Linked DNA regions of Homo sapiens: region 1 is linked to region 2. Evidence: fine-mapped expression QTL. Tissue or cell type: whole blood. Region 2 holds a variant in brackets; the other region holds the start of a gene. All regions are shown on one strand. Distances are between the middles of the regions.

Evidence for each region. PIP is the estimated chance that this variant, and not a neighbour inherited with it, causes the effect.
Region 1: it holds the start of H6PD, and the variant in region 2 is fine-mapped to the expression of H6PD in whole blood (TOPMed, PIP above 0.99).

What each region holds. Positions count from the first base shown.
Region 1 is chr1:9,231,554-9,239,728 of GRCh38, reverse strand. H6PD (hexose-6-phosphate dehydrogenase/glucose 1-dehydrogenase) reads right to left here and starts at 4,955. Exons shown (of 5, transcript NM_004285.4): 1 at 4,663-4,955. RefSeq lists a silencer at 4,543-5,102.
Region 2 is chr1:9,256,152-9,264,300 of GRCh38, reverse strand. It overlaps H6PD (hexose-6-phosphate dehydrogenase/glucose 1-dehydrogenase), which reads right to left. Exons shown (of 5, transcript NM_004285.4): 4 at 1,973-2,242; 5 at 1-792. Among named protein-coding and RNA genes, the nearest start is that of H6PD, 25 kb to the right of the region's middle. The variant GACA/A (reference allele first, on the strand shown) is at 4,031.

The DNA.
Region 1 (8,175 bases), 25 kb after region 2:
GACGTTACCTTCTGTGCGCCAGGCAGGAGGAAGGGAAATTTTCTTCAAATCATGACCCATGAGTTTGGAATTTTTTAAAAAGAACATGTGGGAGTAAAACAAAAGTTCAAACTAAAGATCATTTGAAACTAAAGCACAAGGTGATGTGCCTAGTCTTTTTACAATAGCCAACCCAAGGTTTTTGTTTTTGTTGTTTTTTGTCTGTTTTTTGCAATCTTCCTGTTCTGGTCCATTTATGCTGAACCCATCAATGCAGATAAAAATCAAGCCTGCTATCAATGACCTCTGATCTGCATTCACTGCCCTAAGGGCCAGAATGGGGACAAAAGCTTCCAGATCGGGCTCTGGGGTCCTTGTTCCTCTCTCATCTCAGAGAATCCTCATCCCATCTTTAGGCACCTGTCCTGTAATCCCAGCACTTTGGGAGACTGAGACGGGAGGACTACTTGAGCCCAGGAGATTGAGACCAGCCTGGGCAACATGGCAAAAACCCGTTTCTACTAAAAATACAAAAGTTAGCTGGGTGTGGTGGCGGGTGCCTGTAATCCCAGCTACTTGGGAGGCTGAGGCAGAATAATTGCTTGAACCCAGGAGGCGGAGGCTGCAGTGAGCAGAGATTGCACCACTGCACTCCAGCCTGGGTGACAGAGTGAGACTCTGTCTCAAAAAAAAAAACCATTAAATTAAAAAGAAAGGTAATAAATACTCAAAACTCATTACTTCCTAATCATCTGACTACATTTCACTAATATCTATGCTCTTGATATTATTTATATCCACTGCATCTATGAGGTGAAGATATTCTATTATAGTGTATTTGAAGTTGGCCAACGTCAGAATATTTACACCACAGATATAGGCAAAGGCTATAAATCAGGTTCCCCACTACCAACCCCACCCCTCACAGAGTCAGTTGGTAAACATTACCAGCACACAACTGCCTATCCGTCCAAGTCTTTATTTACAGCCCGAACTTCCCCTAAACTCCAGACTCATGCAGTCAATTGCTATTCTGAGAGCATGAGTGGGATGTTTGCCAGACTTAATATGTACAAAACTGAACTGATTTCTCTCCCAATCTGCTTCCAATGTAGCTTTCCCCATTATCAGTAAATGACAACTCTATCTTTCCAGGTGTTCAGACCCAGAAACCTTGAGGTCATCGTATCTGTCAGCAAATCCTGTAGTTTCTATCTTCAAAATTTATCTAGAATACAACTGCTTCTCACCACCTTCCACCACTCCACTCCAGTGCCAGCCACCGTCATCTCCGTCTGGATTACTACAGGAACTTCCTAATTGGCCTCCTCTGTCTACCTGGACCCTCTATGGCTGAGCCTCAACACGGCAGTCAGAGTGACCTTTTTATAGCTCCAGCTGGATCATGCCATTCCTCTGTGCAGATGTCTGCAGAGTCTACACATTCTGGCCTCCCACCCATTACCTCTTTGATCTCTTCTCTTACCATCCTGCCTGTCTAGGCTCTGGCCGCCCAGCCTCCTGCCTCAGGGCCTTTGCACTTGTTCTCTCCGCCTGGCCAACTCCCCCATGTCCCCCACCAGGTCCACGTGGTTTACTCCCTCACTAATTTTTCTTTGCTAAAATGTCATCTTCTCAGTGAGGCTTACTCAGACCACTCTAAAATTGTAAACCGCCCACCCCCATCCTCCTCTCCTGCTTTATTTCTCCCCACAGTACATCGCTTTCTAATATACTGTATGATAATTACATTCATTTTGCCTATTGTCTGCCATTCCTTTTCCCAAGAGTGTGCGTGCCAATGAGGACAGGGACTTTTGTTTGTTTTGTTCTCCGCAGTACCTCCAGTATCCAAAACAAGGCCTGGCATACAGAAGGCGCTCTATAAATATCTGCTAAATGAACAAATAAATCCCATTTGCACAGGACCACTGTCATTTCTGCATTTGAAATACGGCACAAAGGAATATACCTCTAATGGTGACTTCAAGCACTGTGACACAGCACACAGCAGCAGCTTACTACTTGGAACAACACTTTTAATAATAAAAGAGCTATTTATGGAGTATTTAACTATATGCCAAATGCTAGGCTATCGGTGTGACATGCATCACACCATTTAAATCTTGCCACAACCATATGAGGTAGGTAACATGATTATCCCCATCTTAGCAGGGAGTAGAGAGGAAACTAAGGCAAAGAGAAGTCAAATAACATGGCCAGGCGCAGTGGCTTACGCCTATAATCCCAGCACTTTGGGAGGCTGAGGCAGGAGGATCATTGGAGGTCGGGAGTTTAAAACCAGCCTGGCCAACACGGTGAAACCCCGTCTCTACTAACAATACAAAAATTAGCCAGGCGTGGTGGCAGGTGCCTGTAATCCCAGCTACTTGGGAGGCTGAGGGAGCAGAATCACTTGAACCTAGGAGGCGAACGTTGCAGTGAGCTGAGATTGCGCCCCTGGGCAACAGAGCAAGACTCCATCTCAAAAAAAAAAAAAAAAAAAAAAAAAAGAGAAGTCAAATAACTTACCAAAGGTCAAGCAGCTAGAGGTGATAGGATTTGAATACAGGCAGTCTGGTCCCAGAGCTAACCTTCCCGTAAAATGTGACTACATCCCTGAATGGCAAAATGTAAAACACTGTATTACATTTACACTGTATCAGTGTAGATACTGAACAGTGGTTTAAACCAGACAGGCTGTTTCTCTGCTCCATGAAGTCAAGCTGTTCCGAACACTAACTGCGGTAACCAGCCTCTGCCTCCCGGGTCCGCTTTGCCTTTCACAGTTCTTCCTTCTGACATCATGAAGACATCATGTATAAGCCTCAGTTGCTTTGTTGAAACGTGGAAGACCTTCAAGGGCTAGTTTTTGGAGAACTGGTTACATAAGAATATTCTGGATTCAAATCCCTGCCACTCAGTAACTATGTACCCTCAGACAAGTTATTTAACCTCTCTGTACCTCAACCACAGAATGGGAAAACAAATCGATGGGAAGCATGTAAGGTACTTAGCACAATGCCTGGCATACAGTAAGCACCCAAGAAATCCTAGCTGCTTTTTTTTTTTTTTTTTTTTAAGGAGAAGTCTAGCTTTGTCACCCAGGCTGGAGTGCAGTGGCACGATCTTGGTTCACTGCAACCTCCGTCACCGGAGGCAGGGCGGTTCAAGCGATTTTCCTGCCTTAGCCTCCCCAGCAGCTGGGATTACAGGCATCCGCTGCCCCCATGCCCAGCAAATTTTTGTATTTTTAGTAGAGACGGGGTTTCACCATGTTGGCAAGGCTGGTCTTGAACTCTTCAAGTGACCTGCCCGCCCTGGCCTCCGAAAGTGTTGGGATTACAGGCGTGAGCCACTGGGCCCGGCCAGAAATGTTAGTTTCTATCATTAAACCATTAGCTTCACGAATGAAGTCCTTCTTGCTAGCTTCTTGAACTGCTGTTAAAACCAACTAACCAGCTGGGCGCGGTGGTTCATGCCTGTAATCCCAGCACTTTGGGAGGCCGAGGTGGTGGATCACCTGAGGTCAGCAGTTCAAGACAAGCCTGGATAACATAGTGAAACCCTGTTTCTACTAAAAAATACATAAAATTAGCCGGGTGTGGTGGCACGCGCCTGTAATCCCAGCCACTCAGGAGGCTGAGGTGGAAGAATCGCTTGAACCAGGAGGAGAAGGTTGCAGTGGGCCGAGATCGCGCCATTGCACTCCAGCTTGGGCAACAACTAACCATCAACCACAGAAAAATGCCAAGGAAAAACTCAGACAGCTTTTCATGATCTTCCAATCATAATGATGAAAAATTAAAGGGATATGATGCATAATTTAAAATACGCTGTCTGGGCGTGGTGCTTCACACCTGTAATCCCAACACTTCGTAAGGCTTAAGCAGGAGGATCGCTTGAGCCCAGGAGTTCGAGACCAGCCAGGGCAACATAGTGAGACCACTGTCTCTACAAAAGGTTTAAAAATTAGCCAGGCGTGGTGGTGTGCGCCTGTGGTCCCAGCTACCCCGGAGGCTGAGGCAGGACGATGGCCTGAGCCCAAGAGGTGGAGGCTGCAGGGAACCGTGTTTGTGCCACTGTACTCCAGCCTGGGCAACCAAGCAAGACCCCATCTTTTATAAGTAAAAGATTTTTTACTTTTATATAAAAAAGTAAAAAGATAAAATAAAAAATATGCCCATTTGACACCAGTTTTCCCTCATCTGCTGCCTTTCATGAGCCATGGGCCTGTTGTGGGTGCAGGGGGAGTGGGCAAGGACACTTCTTTCCAGAAGTTCTCACTTCTGGCTAAGCATTCAAGGTTGGGTGAGCTGATTTTCAGAGATCCAGAGAGGTTTGCCCCTGGAAAACCGTTCACTAGATCCGGGTACGGGAAACGCTATGTGAAACCCGAGGGCCAATCAATGCCAAAGATTAAGCAGGTCCCGGGGGAAATCTCGGAGTTCCCCCTCTCCTGGAACTCAGTTCCGGGAAGCCCAGGGAAAGGACAGCTCGGCCGCTCGGGGCGACCCTGGAGGGAGCCTGGCCGCCTCCTGAGCAGTTCCAAAGCCGCCAGCCCCAGGCTCCGTGGGGCTGGCAGCGCAGGCTCCGGGGCTCGGCGCGGCCTCGGGCCCGGCGGCAGCGCGGGTTGGAGGCGCCGGGGCCGGGGCGGCGGCGGGGCCGGCGGGGGGCGCTTACTTCCTCTCGCGCGGCGGCGCAGGCCGCTCCTCCGGGACACGGCCGGGGCGGCGCTGAGGGCCGGGCCCGCTCCCGAGGGCTCCCCTGCGCCCTGGGCCGCACCTCCTCTTCCGCAGGGCCCGTCACTCCGACAAGTGCGCGTGTCACGCGGCCACGCGCCGCACGACACTCCGATACCGCCCGCGGAGCCCGCGGCGGCCGCAGGGGAAGGCGCGAGGCCAAGGCCAGCCCGGCCGCCACCCCGCCCCAGGCCTCAGGCCTCAGGCCTCCACCGCCTTGCGCTCAGCAAGACTGGGGCCCGGGCCGGGGGCGCGCGCGGCGGGGGCGCGCGCGGCGGGGGCGGGGGCGGGGCGGGGGCGCCGGCGAGGCCACGCCCTCCGCTGGCGGCCGCCGGGGCGGGGCCTCGGAGCTTCCGGGGCGAGGCGGTGGGTCAGCTCCGAGCCTCCGCCCCCGCCCTTCCCTTCGGCCCCCTGGTGGCCGTGCGTCCTAGAGCTGTCCTGCCGCGTCCGAGACGCGCGCGGGACCCAGAAGTGGCCGAGGGACGTGGTTGTGTCGTGGAGGGGACCCGGGGTGCTGGCTGCTCCCTACGATCTGGCACCCGCTCTGGGACTCCTCAGGCCTCGCTTTTCCCCATCTGTAGAATGAGCGGCTCGGTCTTTCCCGTCTTCAATATCCAGAGTAGGGATTTAGAAGTCGGAGCGCACACGCTGGCCACGCCTCCGCGCACAGCTTCAGATCTCTGCCACCCCTTATCACTTGTGTGACCCTGAGTTCAGTTTCTTCATCTGTACAGTGGGGACAATGGGAGTACCTGCCTCCGGGGTTGTCTGGCACTTGGGTGCTTAGTAAGCGGAAGCTTGGACCCGTGTGGCAAATAGAAGACTTTTGCTAAGACATTGCTAAGAAAGACAGCAAATGGAATCAGGGCTTCTCTGTAGGGTGAGAGGTATTTAAGTGAGAAAACGGGATCAGCTGCCTCTCAGAGCACTCAGTCCCCTTCCTGTCCCCCACCATTATCAGGCAGTAGGTGGCCCTCACCATGCTCCCCAACCTGCTCCCCACTTTTTCTTTTTTCTTTCTTTTCTTTTCTTTTTTTCTTTTTTTTTTTTTTTTTTTTTTTTGAGACAGGGTCTCGCTCTGTCACCCATGCTGGAGTGCAGTGGCGCTATCACAGCTCACTGCAGCCTCCGCCTCCCAGGCTCAAGTGATCCTCCCGCCTCAGCCTCCCAAGTAACTGGGATCACAGATGTTCGCCACCACTCCTGACTAATTTTTCAACTTTTTGTAGAGACGGGGTCTCACTTTGTTGCCCAGGCTGGTCTCGAACTCCTGGGCCCAAGTGATTCTCCCACGTTGGCCTCCCAAAGTGCTGGGAGGAGATTCTGACCTGAGAGAGAAACTGTGCTGCAGCTTTTTATTTCCCGATGGTTCCATTAGAGGTGGGAGCGTCTGGAACTAGCAGTGGCAACTTGGCAGTGGCCGGCAGGACTGAATGGGGCCAACAGGCATGATTACCACACAGGATGTTAGGCAAGGGGTTCCGGGAAGGCTGGGAACTGAGGGGAGCTGGGCCTCACCGTCACCAAGGCCAGAGGCCATCCGGGCGCCCGCAGAGGGCTGCCAAGCCTCGGCAAGGATTTAGGTCACACTGAGTGGGCCTGGCAGAGGGGGGAGCCAGGGAGCCAGGCACTCTCTGGGCTACCTCCACAGCTGGAAGTGAGCAGGAGGGCTTAGGGCAGGAGCGGGCCAGAGCAGACTCGAATGATGCCGGGACTCTTGGCCTAGAGCCCTTCCCATGTTCTGTGGCCCTGAGTGTGTCAGGCACCCACATAGCTCTGAAAACCAGGGCCCAGGAAGGCACAGATAGAAGTGGGCAGGTGTCCAGAGGCATGACCGGGGGTTCGTTTCCCAGATCTCCATGTGGCCATCAGAGGGTGATCTGCTACCTTGAGGGCTTCTTATAAATAGCCCCAGGTCAGGCGTAGTGGCTCATGCCTGTAATCACAGCACTTTGGGAGGCCGAGGCAGGTGGATCCCCTGAGGTCAGTAGTTCGAGACCAGCCTGGCCAACATGATGAAATCCCATCTCTACTAATAATACAAAAAAAAAAAAAAAAGCCAAGCGTGGTGGCGTGCCTGTAGTCCTAGCTACTCAGATGGCTGAGGCACGAGAATCGCTTGAATCCAGGATGCAGAGGTTGCAGTGAGCCAAGATCGCGCCATTGCACTCCAGCCAGGGCAACAGGGTGAAACTGTGTCAAAAAAAAAAAAAAAAAAAGCCAGGCACGGTGGCTCACGCCTGTAATCCCAGCACTTTGAGAGGCCGAGGCGGGTGGATCACCTGAGGTCGGGAGTTCGAGACCAGCCTGACCAATATGGTGAAACCATGTCTCTACTAAAACTACAAAATTAGCTGGGTGTGGTGGCGCATGCCTGTAATCCCAGCTACTCGGGAGGCTGAGGCAGGAGAATAGCTTGAACCTGGGAGGTGGAGGTTGCGGGGAGCTGAGATCGCGCCACTGCATTCCAGCCTGGGCAACAAGAGTGAAACTCGGTCTCAAAAAAAAAAAAAAAGAAAAAAAAACAAAGCCCCAAACCAAGTCAGTTGTAACCTGCTTACTAAGAAAACGTCCACCTGATTAGGTAACGTTGGGGTGGGGTCTGAGGGGGGAATTAGCCTAGGGGGTCACAATGCCCTCCCAACCCTATGTCCACTCCCACACCACCCTGAGATGTTTCATTTCTCCGCCTGTCTTTCCTCACCTTACCTTCACCTCAGTCTCATCCTGCCTCTGTACCTTCCAGTTTTCTCTGGGCAATCAGTTGCTTTGCTTTCTTTCCATCATGAAGACGATTAGGTCGTGCTAAGACCCAGTCATCCTGGTGTGAGAGTACTGCCACCCAAAACACAAAAATCGAAAACTTTGTCCCTGTGGGCCCTGGCATTGGTTTCTGCACCTTTGCCTGTCTGAAGCTTTTCTTGTTTCCGTGCTGACCGCAGCTACAAGGGACCAGGTGTGCCCAGAACCCCGTGAAGGAAGCCGGGAGAATGAAGGAAGCCGGGAGAAAGGAATGATGCCCCATGGGTGGTCCAGGGGGTGTCCTGTGACCAGAATTCTGTCTGTGGTTTATCTCGTGCTTTATAAGGAGCGCCCTGGGGCTCTATTTATGAAGTGGATTTTTGGGGATTTTTCTTCCTAGCCCTTTAACTGTGGTGTAGGCAGAAGTCAGGGTGAATTCAGCCTGCTTTACAGACAAGGAAAGTGAGACCCAGAGAGATGAATGACTCACAGAGATGCCTGTGGAGTTAGAAATAAAATCCCATTGCAGTTTCTATTTTCAGGTGTCACTCCCTAAGGCAGCTCTGCTGGCTTCGTCTTGCTTCTCGCAGGAGGTGGGGAGGGAGGGAAACAGGTAGAGATTTTTCAGCCACGAGTAGATCTTTTCATCCTCAGACATAAGGAGCCTCTTTTTAAAAATTTTTATTTTATTTTTTGAGACGGAATCTCACTC
Region 2 (8,149 bases):
CCAGCTGCTGGAACAGGGCCACGGGGCTCGAGCCCCCCGACAGTGCCAGGTGGAACTGGCCAAAGCGCCGCACGGCTCGCACAGCGGTGGCCTCGATGTCATTAGCCAGCTTAGAGATCAGCTCCTCGGACCAGGCGGAGACCAGCGGGCTCTCTCGGTACTTGGCCCTGAGGACCTGGAAGTCACTGGGCATTGGGGCCGGCCCTGGCCCTGGCACCAGCTGCTCCGGCTGCTGCTGGGAAAAGAACAACCGGCCGCTACTGAACTCAAAGTCCAACAGACGGCCATTCTCAGCTCCTCCAGGGTAGAGGCGTGGGGCCTTATGGGCCAGGCTCTCCAGCAGAGGGGTCCAGAAGTTCCAGGAGGCCAGCAAGTTCTCTGTGGTGATGAAGAAATTCTTCCGGCCATGGAAGATATGGGATAAGAGGACGGAGTGGGCGTCCCGCTCCCGCACAGGGCTGTAGGCGTAGTAATCGGACAGAGGGCTGCCGAAAAGGCGGAGCCCAGGTGGTCCCTCCATTTCCTTCCAGCTGGAGGGCAGGGAGGGCCTGAACAGGTTCCTGCTGACCAGCACGGCAGGGCTGCCCAGGTCGCCATGGCCGATGTGGAAGACGAGCTGCCGGGGCAGGCACTGGCTCTGCGCCGCGGCCCAGTGCTTTTCGCTCTGCACACAGCAGGCCTGGTTCTTGAACAAGATCCGAGCGTAGCCCACTCTCTCGTCCAAGGCTTTGCCAGACATCAGGATGAAAGGCACGCCCTCCCAGCGAAGGTTGTCAATGTGCACTAGGACGGCTGGGGTGAGGGAACAGCAGAGGGTGACTCTCTGGCACAGACCAGGACTCTCCGGCCAGCCCTCTCCTCTCCTTGCCGGCTCCTCTGGGCGTCCCCCTGCCTCAGGGAAGCCCCTCGCCTTGCCATGCTCACCCCTCGCCTGGCATCTCTTCCATGACCTTCTCTTCCCAGTCCATGCTTGAAAACCGGCCTCTGGGGCTATCTCTATGGCTTTGACACCTGCCTTCATTGAGGCCCCTCTTAGAGTTATGGTCCCCCAGGAAAGGAGAACCGGGCTGAGAGCATCCAACCTGGAGACTCTAAAGGACGCCCCACAGTGGGGGCAAGTGGGGTGGGGGACCCTGACTCTTAGGTATTTGAGGGGTCAGGGGGTCCTACAGAGAAACGTGCTTCCCTCCTGCTTGTGAAGCATTCAGGATGCACCCGACGCAGGGTCAGAGGTGCGGGGTGAGGAGAGAGTCACCAAGCAGAGGCCCGTGGGTGGGGTGTTGGCAAGGAGGGACAAGGCCTGGTGGCAAGAGCCAGGGGCTGACAGTATTCCATGCCCAAGTTCCAAGCCTGGTTCATTCTGACGACTTCACCGAGCCTTACGTTTCCTCACCTGTAAAACGGGGCTAATGGCCCCTGCCTCGTGGTTGGTGCGTGAGGCTTGTATGAGAGGCATCTATAAAGCACCTGGCATACGGCGCGTGCTCAACAGGCAGCTGTGGCTCTTACTGCCTGGCTGCTACCTGGTGAGGAGCCAGCCTCTCCCAGAAAGCCCTGGGTCTCTGGAACTGCCCAGAGGACAGCCCTGGCATGGCACTTGGCCGCTGGAAGTGTCTCCAGCTGTGGCCAGGCAAAAGGCTTGCGGCCTCACTGGGGAGACCCTATGAGGCAGGAACCAGGTCTGTCTGAGCCTCGCACGACAAACCCTTGGGAAGCATCTGGGACTGAACTGGGGCTGACACGAGGCCATGGCCATTGGGATGTCCTTCGCCCTGAGGGCACCACCAGCTGGCCTGCCACTTTAGGCTGGTAGGAGGCCAGGGAGACAGGGGAATGCCATCCTTGCCTCCGAGCACCCTGGGGGAAATCCCACCTCAAGTCCCCTCCACTCCACCCAAGGGCGTCTGCATTTGGAAAGCTGCTCCCGGCGAAGTGGGCAGCCCAGTGCCCCATGCCCAGCCCCAGGGCCCACCTGCGAAGGTCGGCGTCAGGCTGTGGAAGCTGTCTGGCTTCTGCAGCTCTCTGCGCACCTGCTCACTGTAAGACTGGTACTGGCCCACGACGGCACTGCCCCTCTGCAGGCCCCGCAGCGCCTGGAAGACCTGAAGCTTGTGCCGCAGCACAGCCTCCGCACTGCTGACATTGTGGGGCAGCTCCATGGCCACGAGGGTGAGGACCTCCGTCAGATGGTTCTGGAGGACGTCGCGAATGACACCGTACTCCTCATAGAAGCTGGTGCGGCCTGGTGGAGGGAGGTGGAGAAGTGGGGAGGATCTAAAGAGAGGCCAGAACATCAGATCTCCCCGAGGTGCACCAAAACCCCAGCCCGCACATTCATCCTGCATCCTCTTCCCCCAGTCCACAGGGCCTATAAAAATGGTGCACACCAAAGCCAACCTCACCACGAGAAGGGAGGGAGGAAGTCTTGAAGCCACCTCTGTCAATGAGAACTACTGTAAGAGAAGGCGTCAAATCCGTGAGCCTCTACAGAAATCCACATGAAGAAAGCTCTATTCCCAGCAAAGGCCAGATTGCCTCTGTAGATACTGGCCAGCCCCTCGCCCCGCCCTGCCTGGCCACTGCCAGTAGGAGGCTCGGCACTGTGGGGGCTATGGCACCATGGCGGGGGCTGCAGCACCCCAGAGTATGACTGCCACTTACTAGCATGTGATCTTGGGTAAGTTACTTGACTTTTGTTCCTGCATCCTGCCCTTGGATGAGACTAACAAGTGCCACCTCACTACCGGGCGCACACCTGTGCCAGGCAATGTGCAGGGGAGTGGGAGGGAGGGAAAGTGGGAAGAAGAGAAAAGGAAGTAAACAAAATTACAGAGCAGTTGTGACAGAGGGTAATGAAAAGGCCCCTCCGAGACCTGAAGAGCCAGCCTCGCAAAAAGCCAGGGAGAAAGCATCTCAGCTGCAGGGACCCTCAGGTGCCAAAGCCCCGAGGCAGGAAGGAACTTGGTGTGCTGGGGGCCAGATGGAGGTGAGCAAAGAGTGGGGACAGCGGTGAGGCTGGAGAGGAGATCAGGGGTCTTGCAGGATAAGGCGAAGAGGCTGGACTTTTTTCTAAGATCAGTTGTAGGGGGGACACTGGAGGATCTGAGGCAGGAGAAGACGAGACCTGACCTATATTGGGGATCGACCCCTGGTCTTGGGGGGAGAATGGGTGCAGATGCAGGGAAGGCAAGGAAGAGGCTGCACAGCTGCCCAGCAGAGACGACAGGGCCTGGACTAATGGGCAGTACAGGAGCTGGAGGGGAGGGAGAGGCACCCCAGAGTCAGGATTGACTGGACCTGCTGACAGATGGGGTGGGTGTGAGCAAAATGGAGGCCCCCAACATGAGCCCTGGAAGTGGGGCCTGAGCAGAGGGATGGGCAGTGGAGGCGCTCACAGACACGGGGAGGCGGAAGCAGAGGGGTTTGGTGGAGGGTTTAGGTGTGTTTAGGCTGAAGACCCCCAGGCGCAGATGTCCAGTTGTCAGGTGTACGGGGTAACTGTGACGATAAAAGGGAAGAACACCTGGAGAACATGGAGCAGCACGACCAGCATAACAACAGCAACATAACAACACCAGCCTAACAACACAACACCAGCATAACAGCAGTGCAGCAACACCAGCGTAACAACAACATAACAACACCAATGTAACAACAGCAACATAACAACATTGGCGTAACATAACAACATCAGAATAACAGCAGTGCAACACCAGTGTAACAACAACATAACAACAGCAGAGTAACAACGGCAACATAACAGCAGCAACGTAACAACACTGGTGTAACAACAGCAACGTAACAACACTGGCGTAACAGCAACATAACACTGGTGTAACAACATAACACCAGCATAACAACAACAAAACAACACCAGCATAACAACATAACACCACCGTAACAACAGCAACATAACAACACTGGTGTAACAACAATGCAACACCAGTGTAACAACAGCAACATAACACTGGTGTAACAACAATATAACAACACTGGCGTAACAACAGCAACATAACAGCACTGGCGTAAC[GACA/A]ACATAACAGCACTGGTGTAACGACATAACACTGGCGTAACAACAGCAACACCAGTGTCAACAGCAATGTAACAACACCAGCATAACAACAACATAACACCAGCTTAACAACAGCAATATAACACCAGCTAACAGCAACGTAACAACACTGGCGTAACAACATAACGACACCGGCGTAACAACAGCAACGTAACAACACCGGAGTAACAACATAACACCAGCATAACAGCAGTGCAACAACACCAGCATAACAACATAACAACAGTAACATAATACCAGTGTAACAACAACATAACAGCAGAGTAACAACAGCAACATAACACCACCAGCATAACAACAACGTAACAACACTGGCGTAACAACAGCAACATAACACTGGTGTAACAACAACATAACACCGGCGTAACACCAGCATAACAACAACAAAACAACACCAGCATAACAACATAACACCACCGTAACAACAGCAACATAACAACACTGGTGTAACAACAATGTAACACCAGTGTAACAACAGCAACATAACACCGGTGTAACAACAATATAACAACACTGGCGTAACAACAGCAACATAACACCGGTGTTAAGAGCAATGTAACAACACCAGCATAACAACAACGTAACACCAGCTTAATAACAGCAATATAACACCATTGTAACAGCAACGTAACAACACTGGTGTGACAATGTAACAACACTGGAATAACAGCAACATAATACTAGTGTAACAACCACATAACACCAGCATAACAGCAACGTAACAACACTGGCGTAACAACAATATAACAACACCAGCATAACAACATAACAACACTGGCTTAACAGCAACATAACACTGGTGTAACAACAAGTTGTTGTAACACCACCACCAGTGTAACAACAACACAACACTGGCGCAACAATGGTGTAACCATACAACACCAGTGTAACAACAACATAACAACACTGGTGTAACAACAGCAACATAACAACACCGGTGTGGCCAGGCATGGTGGCTCACGCCCATAATCCCAGCACTTTGGGAGGCCAAGGCAGGCGGATCACGAGGTCAGGAGATCGAGACCATCCTAACATGGTGAAACCCCGTCTCTACTAAAAAATACAAAAAATTAGCTGGGCGTGGTGGCGGGCGCCTGTAGTCCCAGCTACTTGGGAGGCTGAGGCAGGAGAATGGCGTGAACCCAGGAGGCAGAGCTTGCAGTGAGCTGAGATCGCACCACTACACTCCAGCCTGGGCGACAGAGCGAGACTCTGCCTCAAAAACAAAAACAAACAAACAAAAAACATCAGTGTAACAACAGCAACATAACACCATCATCGTAACAGCAATGTAACACTGGCATAACAACATAACACCGATGTAACAACAGCAACATAACAACACCAGCGTAACAACAACATAACAACAGTAACACAACACCAGCATAACAACAACATAACAACACCAGAGTAACAACAGCAATGTAACAACACTGGTGTAACAACAACATAACAACACCAGCATAACAATGTAACAACACCGATGTAACAGCAGCAACATAACAACACCGGTGTAACAACAACATAACACTGGTGTAACAATGTAACACCAGCGTAACAACAACAAAACAACACCGGCATAACACTGGCACAACACCGGCATAACAGCAACATAACAACGGTGTTAACAGCAATGTTACAACACCAGCATAACAATATAACACCAGCTTAACAGCAATGTAACAACACTGGTGTAACAGCAACATAACACCAGTGTAACAACACAACACCGGCATAACAATGGTGTACAACACCGGTGTAACAACAACATAACACTGGTGTAACAACAGCATAACAACAGCAACATTAACACTGACATAACAACATAACAACACTGGGATAAGAATGACAACACCAGTGTAACAACAACATAACACTGGTGTAACAACAATGTAACAACCCTGGCGTAACAATATCGGTATAACAACGTAACAACACGGGTGTAACAACAGCAACGTAACAACACTGATGTAACAACACCAACATAACACCACCAGCGTAACAACAGCAACATAACAACACTGGCGTAACAACACCGGTGTAACAATAGCAACGTAACAACACCAGCATAACAACACCAACGCTGACAGCAGCCCCGGCCCGCGCCGCTCCTCCCCATACTCACAAAGACCCTGCACGCAGGCACCGTGATCACTCCTGCTCCGCGAGTGAGGAAGGAGGCAGGTGACCAGGCGCGGGGGCAGAAGCAGACACTGCTTAACCACGAGCTCCGCTCCACTCCCTCCTCTGAGGCTGAACCCCGGTGAGCACTGATTATCGGTGACTCGAATATACAGGACAGTCCCAGAGATCAGGGTTCCAACGCATACCACCTCGCAGGAGAGTTCCAATGCCCAAGTCTCCTCACACCCTCACCTACAGAGAGAGCCTGGCCTCAGACACGAGGAGCCATCATTTCTCAAAGGCTTCTGCACGTAGGACCCCTAACCTGGGATTTGTTTGTTCACCCAGCAAACTCCCAGTCATCCTTAAGGGCTCAGCTTCTAGGAGCTTTGGCCTACCCCTTCTGAGGGGCCCTGGCTTCTTCTAGCCCAGCTGACTGTAATTCAGGCCTGTTTCTCTTTCTTCCCCACTACGAGGGAGGCTCCATCTGAGTGGCATCTGCCCTCTGCTGCATCCCTAGCCCCTAACACAGCACTACGTTCAGACAGTGGACAGCAGAGAAAATGAAGATCCACACATTGTCACGGATAAACCTCCAAGACGTAATGTGGTGAGAAAGCAACATGATTACTTTGATAAAATAAAAATTAACTTGAAAATAGGATATAGGCCAGGCGGACTGGCTCATGCTGGTAATCCCAGCACTTTGGGAGGCCAAGGCAGGAGGATCACTTGAGCCCAGAGTCCAGGAGTTCAAGACCATCTTGGGCAACAAAGTGAGACCCTGTTTCTACAAAAAATTAAAAAAAAAAAATTAGCCAAGTGTGGTCCCAACTATTTGGGAGGCTGGGGTGGGAGGATTGCTTGAGCCCAGGAGGTCAAGGCTGCAGTGAGCTGTGAACCTGCCACTGCACCCCATCTGGACAACACCGCATGAGACCCTGTCTCAAAAAAAAAAAAGAAAGAAAAAGAAAACAGGATATAAAGTGACCAAAATAAACAGAACTTCAATAAATGAAAAATATAATTGGAAACTAGAAATTCAGTAGATGGGCCTTACAGATGAGAAACAGCTGTAAAGAGTCAGCTAGCAGAAGACAGAGCTGAGGCGATTCTCCCAAATGCTGGACACAGAGACAAAAAGATCCATGCTCGGACACATACAGGATGACTCTTGTTCAAAATTAAACAACAGGTTGTTTAGGGAACCAGGCGTGCATGGAAACAGAAAGAGAAGCGAGGGAATAATCTATCCACAATTTGGAAGTGTAAGATGAGGAAATAGGTCAGAACGTGGGGAGGGACACGCAGGAGAATCAAATTCTTTTTTAAAAACGGGTGGTAGGTGCATCCCCGTTTCTTATACCATAGTTCTGTATCTCTTCCATGCATTCTGTAAACTTTAAATTTACCTAGTATCTAGTTAACATTTAATTCCAACAGACAAAAAGCAGCAGATCCTAAGTTCAGGCCTGCTGAGCCCAGCATGCTCCCCTCCCAGCAGCCACTCTGGGTCCATGGCGCCAGTCCTGGGCACCTGCCCTGACCAGGTTGGTGGTGTGCACTCTCGGGCCAACCAGACAGCAAGCATGTCCAGGTCATGGCTGGGGGAACAACCTGCCCTGAATCCAGCCCGATATGCCATTCCCGACAGCAGCACCAGTGTTGGGGGGCAAGAAATGAAGCCGGCAGCCACTCGTAGGAAGGCACTCTGTCCCCGGCCATAACAACCAGGAGCTAGAGGGTGCAGCTCTGTCCAGGGATACTAAACCTTGAAATGAGCAGGAAGTCCAGCCCAACTGTGCCAACCAAAATGCCAAGAGTGGTCTCCACTGGGAAAACAATGGCTGAGATCCCCCAGCTCTGTAGTGTTGTGGCCTTCAAGTTCTTGTGCTATTGTTGAGAAGACATCCAGAAAAAGAGAAACTGATGCCAGCAATGTTTGTGGATCAG